2 separate regions of the Homo sapiens genome follow, and region 2 is linked to region 1. The links come from fine-mapping of genetic effects on gene expression. Tissue or cell type: whole blood. Region 1 holds a variant in brackets; the other region holds the start of a gene. All regions are shown on one strand. Distances are from middle to middle.

Region 1 (8,105 bases):
CTGGCTCCTACTGCTTCCTTGAAGATACTTCCCTGCTTGTAGTCCCCTAGCCAGAAGTTGATGCACTGAGAAGAAAAGGCCCTCTGATCACAGATCAGAGCTTGTGAATTATTATTATTTTTTTTATCTCTGGTAACAAGCTGATAGGGTGAGTGAGAAGGATCAAAGAGACATACTTTGATTTATCACTGAGTAATAATCCTTTCCCGAGAAAGACAAGTTAATTACTTTTTGTCTTAGACCCAGTTAGGGTCACCTTACAGTGCAGGTGGAAAGAAAGCAGGACTGCTGAGAGGAGCTCAGGACCCATTTTTCAGGACTATTGCCTTCTCAAAACTTTGGAGAGCAGTGAAAATAGATTCCCAAGTGAAAGAGGTGGCAGAAATAAAAAAAAAGAAAGAAAAACTCTTTCTCCCCAAAACTAGCAGCAAGCAAACAAAGACCTAAAAATTTTAATCCAGAATCTTCCCCCAGGGGGTTCCCGAGAATTGAGAGACCAGGGTCATTTGTAAGAATATTATATCTTTTGGTGGTAAGTCCTTGGGTACTGTAAACCCAGAAAATCTGAGACAGGTCTCAGTTAATGTAGAAAGTTTATTCTGCCAAGGTTGAGGGTACACACCTGTCACACAGCCTCAGGAGGTCCTGATGACATGTGCCCAAGGTGGTCGGGGCATGGCTTGGTTTTATACATTTTAGGGAGACATGAGACATCAGTCAATATTGTTTCTGTCTGGAAAGGCAGGACAACTTGAAGCAAAGGCAGGAAGACTTGAAGTAGGGAGGGGGCTTCCACGTCACAGGTAGGTGAGAGGCAAATGGTTGCATTCTTTTGTTTCTGATTAGCCTCTCCAAAGGAGGCAATCAGATATGCATTTATCTCAGTGAGCAGAGGGGTGACTTTGAATAGAATGGGAGGCAGGTTTGCCCAAGCAGTGCCCAGCTTGACTTTTCCTTTTAGCTTAGTGATTTGGGGCCCAAGATATTTTCCTTTCACAGTGCTTTTCTCACTTTCTCCCAGTAACCTCCTCTGAGATACTCCTTTGGTTTGTCTGATGAGTCGGCTGCCACCAGGATAGGCATCCTGTTGTCAGTGTCACTCACACAGGCTTCATTCTGATTGTAGGTGACATTGTGGAGACACATGGAAGGGCGTCATGCAGTCCTCCCACCCGCAATTAGAATAATTCATAACCCTGTGGGATGGCTCCGTCAAGACCTCTTCCTGGGGAGTGAATTTATACATCATAGAATAAGGAAAAAAGTCTCTCAAGGCTTGAAAAGAAACCAAGGATTCAATGGCTCTTCATCTGTGTCAGTCAAATGAATCTGCAAATTGGTTGCCCTTCATTGTGAATCAAAATCCTAAACCCTGCAAAACTCATCTGCTTCTATGAGGAATGCCTGTGTTCTTCCCTTAACTTCAAAGACACACTTAATTTTAGGAAAGGCCCTTCGTGGCTTGCTTGAAGTGAGCATAAAGAGAGCTTTTTCATACTCGGTTAGTTTCAAGGACCTGAGGAAGCACAGCAGGAGGCTAAAAACCAGCCCTGCCCAATCCAATTTCAATTTAGAGGTGAGGGCAGAGAGGATGGAAATCAAAAAGCCACAAACCAGGACCAGGTGTAAACATCAAAACCTTTCCCTAAGTGGTCTGCTCAGTTCCGGAGTCCATGTTCCCCCATAGCTCAGTGGCATGCAGTGATGTCCCACCATTTGTGTTGGGAGGCACCGTCTCTGTTACTGTGGGCCCTCTGGGTGAAGCCTGGAGGGTGATGCCTGCGGATCATCTTAGGTGACCCCAGCCAGGCTTTGCTGTTAGTGAGTTTGCTAAACCACATCAGCTCTCAATTCTGGGGATGACACACCCTTAGGTATTCCAAGGATCAGAGATTAATTATAGAATTAACGTCCTCAGCATTAGCCCCTCAGGACGGAAACTTAGGAAGATTTTCCTCTACAGTTTATGTGTGTGGATCTCTCAATCAACAACAAACTGTTTTACAAGTTTTGCTCCGTTCCGTCTGTGCAGAAGGTCCGTCACTGTGATTGGATTAGATGGTTCATATAACCCTGTTTCTCTTTTCCTTGTCCTGTCATCTTTACCTTTCTAAAGTGTATCGCATGTACCCTATTTTGTTTTTGTTTTGTTTTGTTTTGCCCTATGGCAGGGTGTATTTGTAGGGAGTCTTTTTTCTTATTTATTGGTCTATCTAGCTAAGGAGTTAATTAAGAATAAAAGCTCAGGAGTCCTGTAGGAACTGGCTTCCAGGGGCCCAGTGGGAATAGTGGGAAGGCTGTGTTTGAATTTGCCCTACTGATGGTGATTGTCTGCATTCCTTGGCTGGGGAGTTACAGATTTGAGGAGATTAAAACACATTCCAACATTCTACTAGTATTATAAACAATGAGCACATGCCTTTTCTTGCCGCAAGAATCTAGAGAAGCAGAAGATGGCAGGCCTGGAGGCACAGAAGAGGCCGCTGATGTTGGCAGCATTGAATGGGCTCTCGGTGGCTCGAGTCTCAGGGCGGGAAGAGAATCGAGTTGATGCCACCCGGGTTCCCATGGACGAGAGGGTAAGTGGCAGGCTTGTCAATGTGACTCATTCTCTGTAGTCTTAGGATCCCAAAACACCCTCCTTGCCCGAATATGCCAGCATTGAGATTTGTGTGATGCATTCTTTCTTCAATCTGAGATTAGGAAGATCAGGTATAACTGTGTTGCATTAAATCAGTCCCTTTCAGCATCTCATGTTTCTCCATTCCGGTCTTCCTGCTTTGTCCGGTTGGCAGATCATTGGTTGACTAAAACCATCAGCCCCTAACATGCTGTATGACTTGGTCAAGTCACTCAATTTCTTTGGGCCCACTTCCTGTTTTGTAAAATGCACAAGTTAAACACTTGCAGTAGCTCTGAATTTCTGTGATTTTTGTGAGCAATTGCCACTTCTTAGGAAGTGATTATTTTATCCAAGCATTTATTTTTATTTTTAATTTTTTTAAACTTTTATTTTAGTTTTGGGGGCACATGTGAAGGTTTATTACATAGGTAAACACATGTCACAGGGGTTTGTTGTACGTATTATTTCATCACCCAGGTATTAAGCCCAGTACCCCATGGTTATCCTCTCTGCTCCTCTCCCTCCTTCCACCCTCCACCCTCAGGTAGGCCCCAGTGTCTGTTGTTTCCTTCTTTGTGTTCATAAATTCTTATCATTTAGCTCCCACTTATAAGTGACAACATGCAGTATTTGGTTTTCTGTTTCTGCTTTAGTTTGCTAAGGATAATAGCCTCCAGCTCCATCCATGTCTCCCGCAAAAGACATGACCTTGTATCCAAGCATTTATAGAGTTCTTTAAAAATGCTGTCCCCTCGTATGACCATAAAATGAGGCTGATTTATAATTGTCTGGATAATGCATTGTGACAACATGGGTTTTGAAAAGCAGAAAGCAGCTGCATGGTAGTGTTTCAGAAGCGAAGAAAGGTGGATCCTTAGTTCCCGAAATTGCTGTCAGAAGGTTAAGAAACAGGTTGTATAAATGTAATAAAGTACTAAT[A/G]ACACCAGGGTGTTCGATTTCTGCCAGTATGTATCCAGAATTAGAATGTTTTTAAAGCCAGAAGGGACTTCAGAGAAATCATTTAACCCAATTAATACCATGTTATTGGAATTAGTAGTTTGGCCAGGAAGGAGGAAAAAAGAGAGTGATTTAATCCTCAGAGCTATAGAACTGTGGACCAGTATCATCTTAAAAACAGCTATATAGGTGGAGGAAAGGATGTTTGGATAATTAAGATTAACAGTCTCTTTATCATTAGGACTTTAAACAGAGTTGTTAATAGCAAAAATATTGATTTTTGAATTTCAACTCTTGCTAGTTCTTGCAGATTTGTTCTACTTATAATATGAGTAAGAAGGAAAATGGTTATTAGACAAGGGAAAATATCAATATGGTTGATAATGAGACAAACCAAGCATTGATTGTAGAACTTGAAATCTCTTTTAACACAATCGCTAAATATTTAAAGAAATTTGGTTGTTTCATTGAGTTTTTGGATCAGATAATTTAGAGAGCTGAAGATCAATTTCTGTTGCAGTTCAGAACCCTGAAGAAGAAACTAGAAGAGGGAATGGTGTTCACAGAATATGAGCAAATTCCAAAGAAAAAGGCGAATGGCATTTTCAGCACAGCAGCTCTGCCAGAAAACGCCGAGCGCAGCCGAATCCGTGAAGTTGTCCCCTATGAGGAGAATCGAGTAGAGCTGATACCAACCAAAGAAAATAACACAGGATACATTAATGCCTCCCACATCAAGGTAAGAAGGCAAGCCTGTTAGAAGGTTTGGTAAAGATGGCTGGGTTAAAGGGAAAAATGCGGGGAGAAGAAAATGTGTGGGCTGCAGTTGTACCTTTTGGCTTGTCCCCAGACCCTCAGGGATTGTTTTTGAACTCCTGTGCTTTTCTTAGTCAAGTGGAAGGGCATGTCTATCACTGCAGAGAGAAGGAAGTCTAGCAGCCTCAGGAAGAACTTCAGGTCAGCGATTTCTGAAGCTCGCTCATTACAGAGGCTTTAACTTTTCCTTCTCTCTGTGGGCTGTAACTCTCTCTATACTCAGATTATCCTTTTCAGTTTGTAATTAGCAGGTGCTGGAGACTTTGGAAGTTACAGGTATTGCGTTACTGACATAAAAGTGTCATGTTCAATAACAATAGAAACTATTGTTTTTCCCTTATAATACTGCAGGTTATGCATTTTATAAAAGCGCGAGTCCTATTATTGCATGGTATTTAGAAGAGTGGAGTAATTTTCACCTACACTATAAAAGTGTGGTTAATATTGAATCTTGAAAGATTTGCCACATTAGTCAATGAATTTGTGTTACTAAATTTTTGTTGTTATTTCAAATACTTCAAACCTTTATATGTCAGTATTACATAGTTTAGCACTTCTGCAGTTAAAACTTTGACTTATGGATACATGTGTACCTGTAGTTAAATGTTTCTTAAATAGCTTACCTTCCTCAGAGTCCCTGTTAACAGAGGGACACTTATTTAGAATGTCACCATTTGCTCTGAACTCTGAAGTGGGAGATTTGTTCATCTATTAATGTTAAAGCCAGTGTTATAGGTGTTGTTAAATAACACAAGGTTCAATTGATAGTCCACTGTGATCAATAGCCTTAGAAACCTGTTTTCGGCCTTGTCTAGAATTACTTACTTTCCTCATTGGACTTTTCAACTGTAGCAGAATTATTAACAGGTTTTTTTAAGCCTGTAAAAGGCGAGTTAGATATCTAGCTTGTGTATCAATTATAACTAGTTTTGATACAGAATGGGAAAAGTATAGTATGGTTGGGTATATACTATTTTTATTAATATACACAGATAACCATAGTTTTTAATAATTAGAAAGTACTGTCAAAAGAAATATAAAAGAGTAACTATCATAGATCATATTACTAATTTTAACTTGGATTTTTGAGAGTGAGAAGTAAAAAGTGAACTCTAGGAAACTCTTAAATAAACTGTCAGTGGTGGGTTTCATGGGCTTAGTTTACATTATGAAACAATGACCAAAGTAATGTATTCCAACAAAGATGCAGATCACACAGCTGCTTCCTGATAGAGTGTCTATGAAAATCTTACATAGAAATATTATATTATCTTCTTCTTTTGGCCAGATCTCTTCCACTATTTTCCATCTGCTCTCTGAAAAAAGCTGTCACTTTGTATAAACTGTGCCCATCGGGCATTGTTAACCGAGGAGCATTCCCTTCCTTGGTATTCTCTGTGGCCCACATTTCATCCTGTGGATCCGGGTTAGACATGGGTGCATTTCATAGACCCGTGGACCTTGCAAGAACTTGTCCCTGTGTTTTGGAATAGAGGAGTATATTTTGCCAGTGTTTTCCCCCCTGGGTTCCAAGCAGCCGTTAACACAGAACAGAGATTTATTTGCTCCAGAGGTGGAATCACATGTGTGAAATCTACCTCAGCAGCACTGCTTGTTGTGTTTTTAATGCAGTTTTTAATACCCTTCTGTCAATACTTGGAATATACTGAAAGGCCCCAGGCAGCAGCAGCATTCTCTGGAAGTATTTATGTTTCCTATACGTTGGGTGCCAGAGAGGCTAATGTTTAAAATCACAATTCCACGGATAAACCAAACTCCTAGCCAGCAAATATATGAATGTTATCTCCCACCAGTATTTGGAAAATGGATTTTTCTTGCCAGCTTTGACCTAAACATGCCTTGTGTAATGAGACAATAACTTACATTGTTTTTGTTTGAACCAAGTTAGCATACAGTTTTATCAAATAAATGAGGGGAAAAAGTTTCAAACAATGATTACTTCATTACTTTTTGAACTCTCCAGAGATCTGCATTGTATAGATGTAGAAGGGACCTGACTTTGCAATATCAAGGCACAGACCTGGAAGGGAGAACAGAAAGAATTCCTCCAAAGGCCACCATTTCACCTTGACAGCATGACCTTTAACACTTTGGGTACAACTTCTTATTTATGGTTCTCAGCAGCTAGTATTTATAGCTGTAGAATTATCTTCCCCTGATCACCCTGAGCTGCAGGGGTAATAATTTTATTATCCAAAGTCATGTCATGACTGTAGTTCAGTTGGATGCTGTGGTACTACCAAGGTGAAGCTATTGATAAAATATATGCTGTTGACAAGAGCATTCGTAGCATCTCTGCCGTGCATGGCACCACAGAGCAGCAGTGACAGCAGAGGTTTATGATACACTTCATCTCAGATCCACAGGAGAAAGATAGTGCTCCAAAAGGGATGTTGTTTCATGATCTTTTTTTTTTTTTTTATTGTTTAATTGGATGCCATGAAGCACTGCTTTTCAAACTGGATTACAACACAGTGGTAGAATGTGAAATCAGTTTAGTGGTCATGACCAGGTGTGTGTGTGTGTGTGTGTGTGTGTGTGTGTGTGTGTGTGTGTGTGTGTTTCAATGAAATCGACTAGAAAAGAGAAAAGAATGGAAAGTGTTAGAGTACATTGCACATAGTAAGCAGTAACTATTATTTCTGTAACAAGTAAATCCTAAGTTATACATGTTCATATATATGCATCTATACATGTGTGTATGTGTATGGTTTTTAATAGGCACTAGTTTGCATATACTGTGAGTTGCAAACAAAGATCAGGTAAAGGCCAAGCCTGGTGGCTCAGGCCTGTAATCCCAGCACTTTGGGAGGCTGAGATGGGCGTATCACCTGAAGTCAGGAGTTCAAGACCAGCCTGGCCAATGTGGTGAAACGCCATCTCTACAAAAATACAAAAATTAGCCGGGCATGATGGCGAGTGCCTGTAATCCCAGCTCCTTGGGATTCTGAGACGGGAGAATTGCTTGAACCCAGGAGGCGGAGGTTGCAGTGAGCCAAGATCGTGCCACTGTACTCCCGCCTAAGCAGCAGAGCAAGACTCAGTCTCAAAAACCAGGATTAGATAAATATTTAATAGGCTTGAGTGGCAAAAAGTATTTTCATGTGAGAATGTGTCACTACACTAGCCTCTGTAGTCTCAGGGTTTTTGTTCATTGAACTAATTCATTCGGCCCCAAAAATATATCCAAGGTTTTAAGGTGGATACAGATGGACAGGTGATCAGCAGGTAATGTTGTCCGGACTTGGGGTTTATTTACCGATACTTTTCTTGGTTTTTAGGTGGTGGTTGGCGGGGCAGAATGGCACTACATAGCCACCCAGGGGCCCCTGCCACACACGTGCCACGACTTCTGGCAGATGGTGTGGGAGCAGGGAGTGAATGTGATTGCCATGGTCACTGCAGAGGAGGTAAGGGGAATGGCCTACTCCACATCCTTTTTCCCCAGGGGAAAGGGTGGCCAGAAGATGGGCTTTGTGCTGTCAACTTTGCTACCCTATCCTTCTTCCTGCAGTGCTGTTTCTCTGCACATGCTTTTCTCTTTGGTATACATCTGTTTTCTTACTTCCAGATAGATATTTTTTCCCCTGGAGATAATTGATTGTTGTAGCTTTTCCTCCTCCCATTTTCATCTGGCTTTTAACTCTTTTCCTTGGATTGTAATGCACTAAACTGAAAATAAAACAAC
Region 2 (8,105 bases), 95 kb after region 1:
CCAGGGCTAGTTCAGAGAACTTCAGGAAAACAGCATCAGGATTTCATGGCCCTTAATACTGATTAAGATCAACTAAAAATTATTCTGCCGGTTTGATAAAACAAGAGGAAAGCTAAGATGAATACGCTAGAGAATAAATCTGGGGGACATGAGGAAAAAAAGCCTTTATAACTGCTGAAATAGGACACCTTAATCACAGGGTTTGGCTCAGGCAAACAATTTAATTTTTAAAACAACTAATCTAAGCCAGACATGACCGAAATTCACTGAAACTGGGTTCTAACAGCTCTATTCCAAGGAGGCTAAATGGGCTTTCCTGGTTCCCCCTACACTCAGAACAAACAAAGAAATGTCAATAATCTCATCCTTAAATAACCCATGAGCCAAGAGAACTAAAGATCAAAAGGGAGACTAAAGATCAAAAGATCTGCCTACCTGAAGAATGGCACATAGAATGAATATTTAGATGGAACACTGGGTTAAAGCAGATTTCTCTCCTTCTGAGACAAATCACATTGGGGGTTAAAATATGTCTAGGCCAGGCACGGTGGCTCACGCCTGTAATCCTAGCACTTTGAGAGGCTGAGGTGGGTGGATCACTTGAGGTCAGGAGTTCGAGACCAGCCTGGCCAACATGATGAAACCCTGTCTCTACTAAAAATACAAAAATTAGTCGGAAATCACTTGAACCCGGGAGGCGGAGGTTGCAGTGAGCCAAGATCGTGCCACTGCACTCCAGCCTGGGCAACAGAGTGAGACGAGACTGTTTCAAAAAAAAAAAAAAGTCTAAAACTTAGTTTAAAATACAACATACTTGGCCCGGCGCAGTGGCTCATGCCTGTAATCCCAGCACTTTGGGAGGCCGGGAGTTTGAGACCAGCCTGACCAACATGGAGAAACCCTGTCTCTACTAAAAATACAAAATTAGCCAGGTGTGGTGACGCATTCCTGTAATCCCAGCTACTCGGGAGGCTGAGGCAGAGGAATTGCTTGAACCGGGGAGGTGGAGGTTGTGGTGAGCTGAGATCACGCCACTGCACTCCAGCCTGGGCAACAAGAGCGAAACTCTGTCTCAAAAAAAAAAAAAAAAAAAAAAACCACACCAAAAAATGGTGATAAATGGCCAAAATGTGTATGTGTGCATTTATGTGTGTATGTGTGTATAAAGTGTATCTGAGAAGTCTGATAGGGACAGCTTCCAAGTGGAAAAACTTTATATAATATTATTAGGAGCTGCCTTCTAGCAGTTCAGGCAAGATACGCATGTTCTCCAATGGCACCCACCAGACTGAGAAATGTGATACAAATTAAAAATTCCCCAAAGCAAACCTTTGTCTGAATTGCCCTGACCGTAAGAATCCCATTCTGTTGAGACTTAAGACATTTTCCATTATTTCTCAATTTATAGCATATACTTATTCCTACCTAAAGAAATCACTTTTCTTTTCTTCAAAAAAAGTTAGATCCTGATACAATTAGTATGACATGGAAATTCTTGGGTCATTCATTTATCTTAAGCAGTATTGTTTATGTTAAACTTCTGGCAAAAGAAAGGATAAGGGGTAGCTTTCTTTTGGGTGTGTGGAGCTGGGGCAGGCAGCAGATTTTGACCTGTAAGTATGAACATTTCCAGAATTCTACTCCTATACTTTGAGGCCCTATGGAGGAAAATACACGTTCCCCTCATACATCTGGACAGACTGATTTGTCCTAAGTCATATACAAATTGCTGACAGAGGAACTGATGCTGAATCTATCAGATGACCTAACCACTAATAGTAAATGATTCAGATTTAATAGAAATCATGAAGTAGGGTACAAGGATATTTCTAATTGCATAAGTATCATGGATATTATTTCTTTTGTATTATTTTAATTGACTTCAAATAATTCTTTGGGGAGAGAGAGGAAATAAACTACGGGTATTGACATAAGGTCAGGGAAATCAAACAGAGAAGTGGTTTGCAAGTTGTAATAACACCCCATTGCAAGTTGCAGCCCTGGTGAGGGACCCAAGGCAACAGTGAGTAACACTAATAAATGTCAATCAGAAAAATTTAACAACAAAAGAGGCAGCAAACTGTCACATATGGCAGAATAATCCAGGCTGAATGCTTTGTGAACTTGCATCTGACCATCCATTAATGTTCTAAGGTTGGGGGTATGCGTAGTAGATACAATTAGGAGACTTAAAGCTAAAGAGAAGCATCTCTCAGTTCTTCTCATCCCTTCTAAATCCAGAGGGATTTGATCTTTCATTCACTGGGGGCCAGGGCTGGCAACTACCCATATAAAGTAAGCACCTACTATGTGCCTGGCATCCATGGTCTTAGGCGATGGCTTCCAGGAATTGCCAGGATCCCTGATGGAGGCTCCTTCTGTGCTGCCTGACCTGCTTTGCTCCTGCCACTGCAGACACCCACGCTGCTGCAGACTCCGAGCCACAGCAAGGCTCAGAAGATCAAGGGACCAGTCACAGCAGCCTTTTTAACTTTGGGAAAACCCAATGCTCACTTCACTCAAACGTTGCAAAGTGGTGCCATGACCCTTTAGCTCTTGGCTCACCAATTCAAAGAGCCACATCACATACAGCCCTTAAGCTGCCCACGGCATGATTCCGTGTCTAGTTCCTTTCCAGGTCCCCCCAAGCGGAAGACAGTTCTGGCAGGGAGTCTGGGCAAGATTACTACAATATTTAGCCTTTGTCCCTTCTTTTGCTACGTCTTATTGTAGAATGAGGCACACAGGTCTGAGAGATTGAGTATGCTGGACTTGAGACCTGTACTCAAAAGGTCCCTGCAGGACCGCAGGTCAGCTTAATCCAGCCCAGGAATCTCCATTTCAAAGATGAAGAAACTGAGGTTCAAAGAAAGCAAATCATGGTCTCTACTCAGAGTACTGGAAGGCCTGATATAAACTTAACCCCAATGCCATGCCTCCTGCCTTAGTAAATTTACTGAGCACCTAACCAGTGAGAAATAGGCAGAAGTGAATAAGGCCAGATTTCACTCCCTTCACTACTGGTGTGAATGGATAAAGGTAACTCCACTTTCTCTCTGGGCTTTAGTTTTCTCATCCATTAAGTGAAAGACAAGACTGAATTGGTGATTTCTAATGTGCCTTTAAGCTCTGAAACTCTCATAAGAGTTGAGGATATAATTATGTGTTGGTGTGTGCAAATGTATATGCATCATATATACAAACACAGACACATATATACATATGGTATCTTACAATTAAATACCATTAGCAACCACACATCTTGCCCAATCCCTTCCTGCGACCATGTTTTCCTAATCCCAAACCGAAACTGGACACTGCAACTCATCGTCGCAGCACCTCAGAATCCAGGGGGTGTGGTCAGTGCCCACTGGCGTCCCTCCAAACACCCATGTAAGCGTACTTTAACATGTAAGCGTACTTTACAAGACATATACTAAGTCATTAAATTCCTTGGAAGAAACGGCCAATCTGAGGCAGGGCTGGACTGTGGGTAACAGAACACACCGCAGGAAGCATAAGTTAAAGGTGACAGCCCGTGGCTGCCCAAATTTGGGGCTCCGCTGCCAATGCACCGGGAGGGCAGTGAGTGCCCAGGCTTGGAACAAGCCTGGCTCGGAGCCCACATTTGAGGGCAGGAACCTGCACGCCCGGGTTTGCGCATCCAGCGTGAGCAACTCTGAAAACGTGCAGTGCAGGGCGTGCAGCGGGGCACCGGTCCTGTTTCCTCTCGCACGTGGCGCCTGGCGTGGGGCTGCAGCGCGGGGCCGCAGCGCGGGGCCTCCTCCCCTCCCCGCCCCCCACCCCGCCCCAAGGGCCGGCGCTAGGACCCCGCGAGCCGCACGCACTTCCTGGCGCCGCCGTCCAAGCCTCCCGCTCGGCGCCCCCGGCTCCCGCCCGCCGCCGCCGCCGCCGCCGCCCTACCTGGTGAAGCAGTACTCGCAGTGGTTGCCCCGCTCGTTGACCGTGAGCACGTAGGCATAGGCCGGGCAGGAGAACAGCAAGTCCCCCACCTGGAAGGGCTGCAGAGCCCGCAGCCCCCGGCCTTTGCCCGGGCTGCAGAAGCGCTCCAGGCCGCCGAGGCCCTCGGCCCTCATGGTGGCGGCGGGGCGCGGCCGCCGGCTGTGCCCGAGCTGCGGCTCCCGGCGAGCTGTTATTGGAGACGCGTCACCTAGAGCTGCGGGGGGCGGGGTGGGAGCCGCCCGGCGGACGCGGCGGCGGCTCCCCGCTCCCCGGAAGGGAGGGCGGCCCCGCCCGGGCCTCGCGCGCCCCCGCGGGGAGGGGGACGGGCCCGGCGGCCCCGCCTAGCGCCGCGACCCTCGGCGGCCGCCCCGCGCGCGCTCCGGGCCGTTTCCGGTGTGGCCGCGACAAAGAGCCGCAGCCCCTGTGGCTTCTGCGAGGAGGCGTGAGGCGTGTGCGCCTCCGCGGCGTCTCCACGGAGCGAGCGGGACGCGCCCTCCTCCTCGGTGGGAGGGAGGGGGGTCACCTGCGGGGACCAGGTATCCGAGGGCCACCCCTAGACAGTCAGCCTGGCCCGAAGGATGACCAGCCCCCGGTAAATAGAAGGGGGCGAAGCCAGCTCCGAAACCTTACGTTCGCTGTCCCTTGTAAAGACCCTAGAGGCAGTGATCGGGGAACGCCAAGGAGAAAGCGGCAGAGGGGAAACCACAGTAGAGAAGTTTGGTGTGCAGAGGGTTGAAGTGTGCTTTTCCAAGGTTAGAGGTTTTTAAACCTTGTGGCTTTAATGGGAACGTAGTTTGCCCTCTGCTCCTCTAGTGGAATTACATGGACGGAAGAGGAAATGCATTGGCCGGCCCAGCTCACCGAGTCTCTGAGGCATGCTGCGAACGTTGCAGAGGAAGCCAGAGAGAACCTTGCCTTCAAGGAATTTAGGCTGTTGGGGGATAATGCGATGCTGTGGCCAGTGTCCAGGACACTGCGCTAGAGTTTGCAGTAGTTTTAATATGCTTGACCACCCACGAACTGTGATCTTAGAAAAGTCACTTGGGTTAGGAGTCAAAGGATTTAAAGCCCACAAAGCCTGAAACGTAAATCCTATACACATGCACGCTATTACTTTTCATATGAGAAAGGAAAATATAATCCGTGTTCCACATGATTATGTAAAGACTGGAATTGATGTACATGCAGTAAAGACTAAAATTGTGACGAGATCATTTAGCAGAAACCACTACTTCAAAATAGGACCTCAAACAGTTACCTGTGTAAGTTCAGGACTGGTTGAGCAAAGGGAAAGGATTAATATGATTGGAGATGTAAAATCAGTGGAATTTTTGGCATTTCAGTAAAATGTCTTTATCAGCTGGGTGTGGTGGCTCAGCCCTGTAATCCCAACACTGTGGGAGGCCAAGGTGGGAGGATCATTTGAGCCCAGGAATTGGAGAGTTGGAGACCAGCTTGGGCAACATAAAGACCCCGTCTCTATGGGAAATTAACCACCTCTCAAGTGGTGCTGAGGTGGGAGGATAGCTTGAGCCTGGGAAGTCAAGGTTGCAGTGAGCTGTGGTGACTCCATTATACTCCAGCCTGGGTGACAGAGCAGGACCTTGTCTCAAAAGAAAACAAAAAAGCCCTTATTAGTGGCAAACTAAATAAGCCTCTAACCCGTCTTCAAGTAAAGGAAGTTATGATAGTATTTTCATTTATGCATTTTAAGAAACTTCGACTGACTATGGCCAGCAACTGGGATAGAAAGATGGACATCAGCCGGCTGTGGTGGCTCACGCCTGTAATCCCAGCACTTTGGGAGGCCGAGGTAGGCGGATCACCTGAGGTCGAGAGTTCAAGACCAGCCTGACCAACATGGAGAAACCTCATCTCTACTAAAAATACAAAATTAGCCAGGTGTGGTGGTGCATGCCTGTAATCCCAGCTACTCGGGAGGCTGAGGCAGGAGAATCGCTTGAACCTGGGAGGTGGAGGTTGCTGTGAGCCAAAATCGCACCATTGCACTCCAGCCTGCGCAAGAAGAGCGAAACTCTGTCTCAAAAAAAAAAAAAAAAAAAAAGTGGACAAAATGTAGTCCTAGGTCCTTGCATTTGGCACATTCAAGTTTGATAATACCATTAGTTATTGAGTATTGTTGACCAGGCATCGTGCTCCATCATTAAACACATTATCTGGTTTATCTTTACAACAGGCTAATGAGTTAGGTATTATGCCCCTCATTGCCAAAATTAGGAAGGAAACTAAGACCCAGAAGGAATGATTTTCAAGGCCACACAATAAATTGCAGAATTTGGTTTCCAAGTCAGTCTGAATTCAAGGTCCATGTTCCTAACCACAGTGTTTTGCTGCAAACAAACACAGTTCACTGGGATAAGTGCAGTTATGGTGGCTTGTACAAAATGTTCTGTGGTAGTACAGGCAGGGAGTGACAGCTTTAGCCTGCTAAACAGTCAAGACAGGCATCACATTCAAGTAACGTTAGAGCTGAGCCTGAAGGATGGACAGGATTTTGCAAGTGGAGGTGGGGAGAAGAGTTTTCTGGGCAGAGAGAACTGCGTACAAAGACAGAAGACCCTGAAAGCACAGAGCTTGTAGTTGGGGGCCCCTGAGCATCTGGAAGAGAGGACAGGAAATGAGGCAGGAACAGCTGAAGAGCATCTTCTCCAGAGGTGAGTTCTGCCCCAGAGGCCATGGGAGAGCCAGTTAAAGCGTTTAAGTGAGGGGTGGCACATTGAGTCCAGTGTTTTAGACTGATCTGCCAGCAGCATTGTGGGTTGGCTGGGGTGCCAACATTCAGCACTTCATAACTGTTTACATGTATATAAACAGCCTTGGCATGTGAGACCACTGACAGTTTGCATTTGTCTGTGTGATGACCTGATTAGTGTTTACATCCTCCACCAGACTGTACAAGCTCCATGAGGGCAGGGAATGAGTCTGTTTTTGTTACCCTTACATCACCAGCTCTTATCACTACTCCTGGAACACAGAGAGAATGGAAAAAATATTTAAAGGTTGAATAAACGTCATGGAATCTCATTCTGATTTCTGGGGGCTCTAACCAGCAAAAAGATGAAAAGACTGACGTAGAAGTAAACAATTACAATACAGTAGACAGTTTACTGTTTCAATGATTAATTGTGCAAAGTAATCTACCTGTTTACTTTTTTTATTGCAAGTAACTTTTTCCACTTTAATTGGGAAAGATTTCCACAGCTGAGAAAAAAGCAATTACATAGCTACCGAATTATCTTTCCAGATGAGTGCTGGCTTATTCTTGAGGGTGGAGGTGACTGTGATTTGAGAACACTGGAAAAGAAACCGCCTCATTTCAGAAAAATCCCTGTGATGAACTTAAATGACTCGAGATGGGGAAATGGTCACTGAAGCAGTAGCCATGAATTTAGGAGCTTAAATTACTAAGAAAACTGTGTTTAAAATAAACAGCCAAAGAATGGCAATAAACCAGCCCGGGGAGACTGATGACAGCGCTCTTCATGAAGCCCATACTTGTCACTCTGCCACTCTGTAATCTCACATTCCGTGAAGTCTTTGAGCAGCCAGGACCCATCCACTTTTCCTACGCCCTCTGCTCCATAACGTAGGAGGTATGGAATTTGAAAGGAGTGTTTTTGGTTACTTTGCCTCACTGAAACTCAGGAGAAGTGGTACAAGGACGAAAACTCCTTTGCTTAATTTCTCTAACCTAGAAGTTGATCTAATTTATGAGTAAAAGATCCTTCCAACCACAGATTAGCACATGAAAGAAATAGCTCTGGCCTAGGGAAATGAAGCCTTAGCAAAGAAGGTATCCCAGTGAACGTGAGCAAAGGGCCTAGATGCTGTATAGTTCTGCATCTATGTCTACATGTCACTTATTGAGGACATACTATGTACTTACACTGTGATAGATCCTAGTCATACCAAGGTGTAAAGACCAACATACATGAAAACAGTTATGAAGTGCTGAATGTTGGCACTCATAGATATTAGGTTCCAATCCCTGGAATCTATAAATGGCTTCAAAGGGTCTTGCAAATGTGTTTTAAGGATCTTGAGAGAGTGAGAGTATCCTGGAACATCCAGGTGGGTTCTCTGTGCAGTTGCAAGTTTTCTGATGAAGGACAGAAGGAAAT

What was found. PIP is the estimated chance that this variant, and not a neighbour inherited with it, causes the effect.
Region 2: SMYD2 starts here. The variant in region 1 is fine-mapped to the expression of SMYD2 in whole blood (TOPMed, PIP 0.98).

Annotation. Positions count from the first base shown.
Region 1 is chr1:214,372,433-214,380,537 of GRCh38, reverse strand. PTPN14 (protein tyrosine phosphatase non-receptor type 14) reads left to right here. Exons shown (of 19, transcript NM_005401.5): 14 at 2,436-2,579; 15 at 4,101-4,319; 16 at 7,699-7,827. Among named protein-coding and RNA genes, the nearest start is that of SMYD2, 95 kb to the right of the region's middle. RefSeq lists an enhancer at 1-206. The variant A/G (reference allele first, on the strand shown) is at 3,563.
Region 2 is chr1:214,277,247-214,285,351 of GRCh38, reverse strand. It overlaps SMYD2 (SET and MYND domain containing 2), which reads right to left and starts at 4,193. Exons shown (of 12, transcript NM_020197.3): 1 at 3,925-4,193. The coding sequence starts at 4,097. LOC124904509 (a long non-coding RNA gene) reads left to right here and starts at 4,316. Exons shown (of 2, transcript XR_007066876.1): 1 at 4,316-6,638. RefSeq lists silencers at 3,774-3,933, 3,964-4,083, 4,104-4,393 and an enhancer at 4,673-5,238.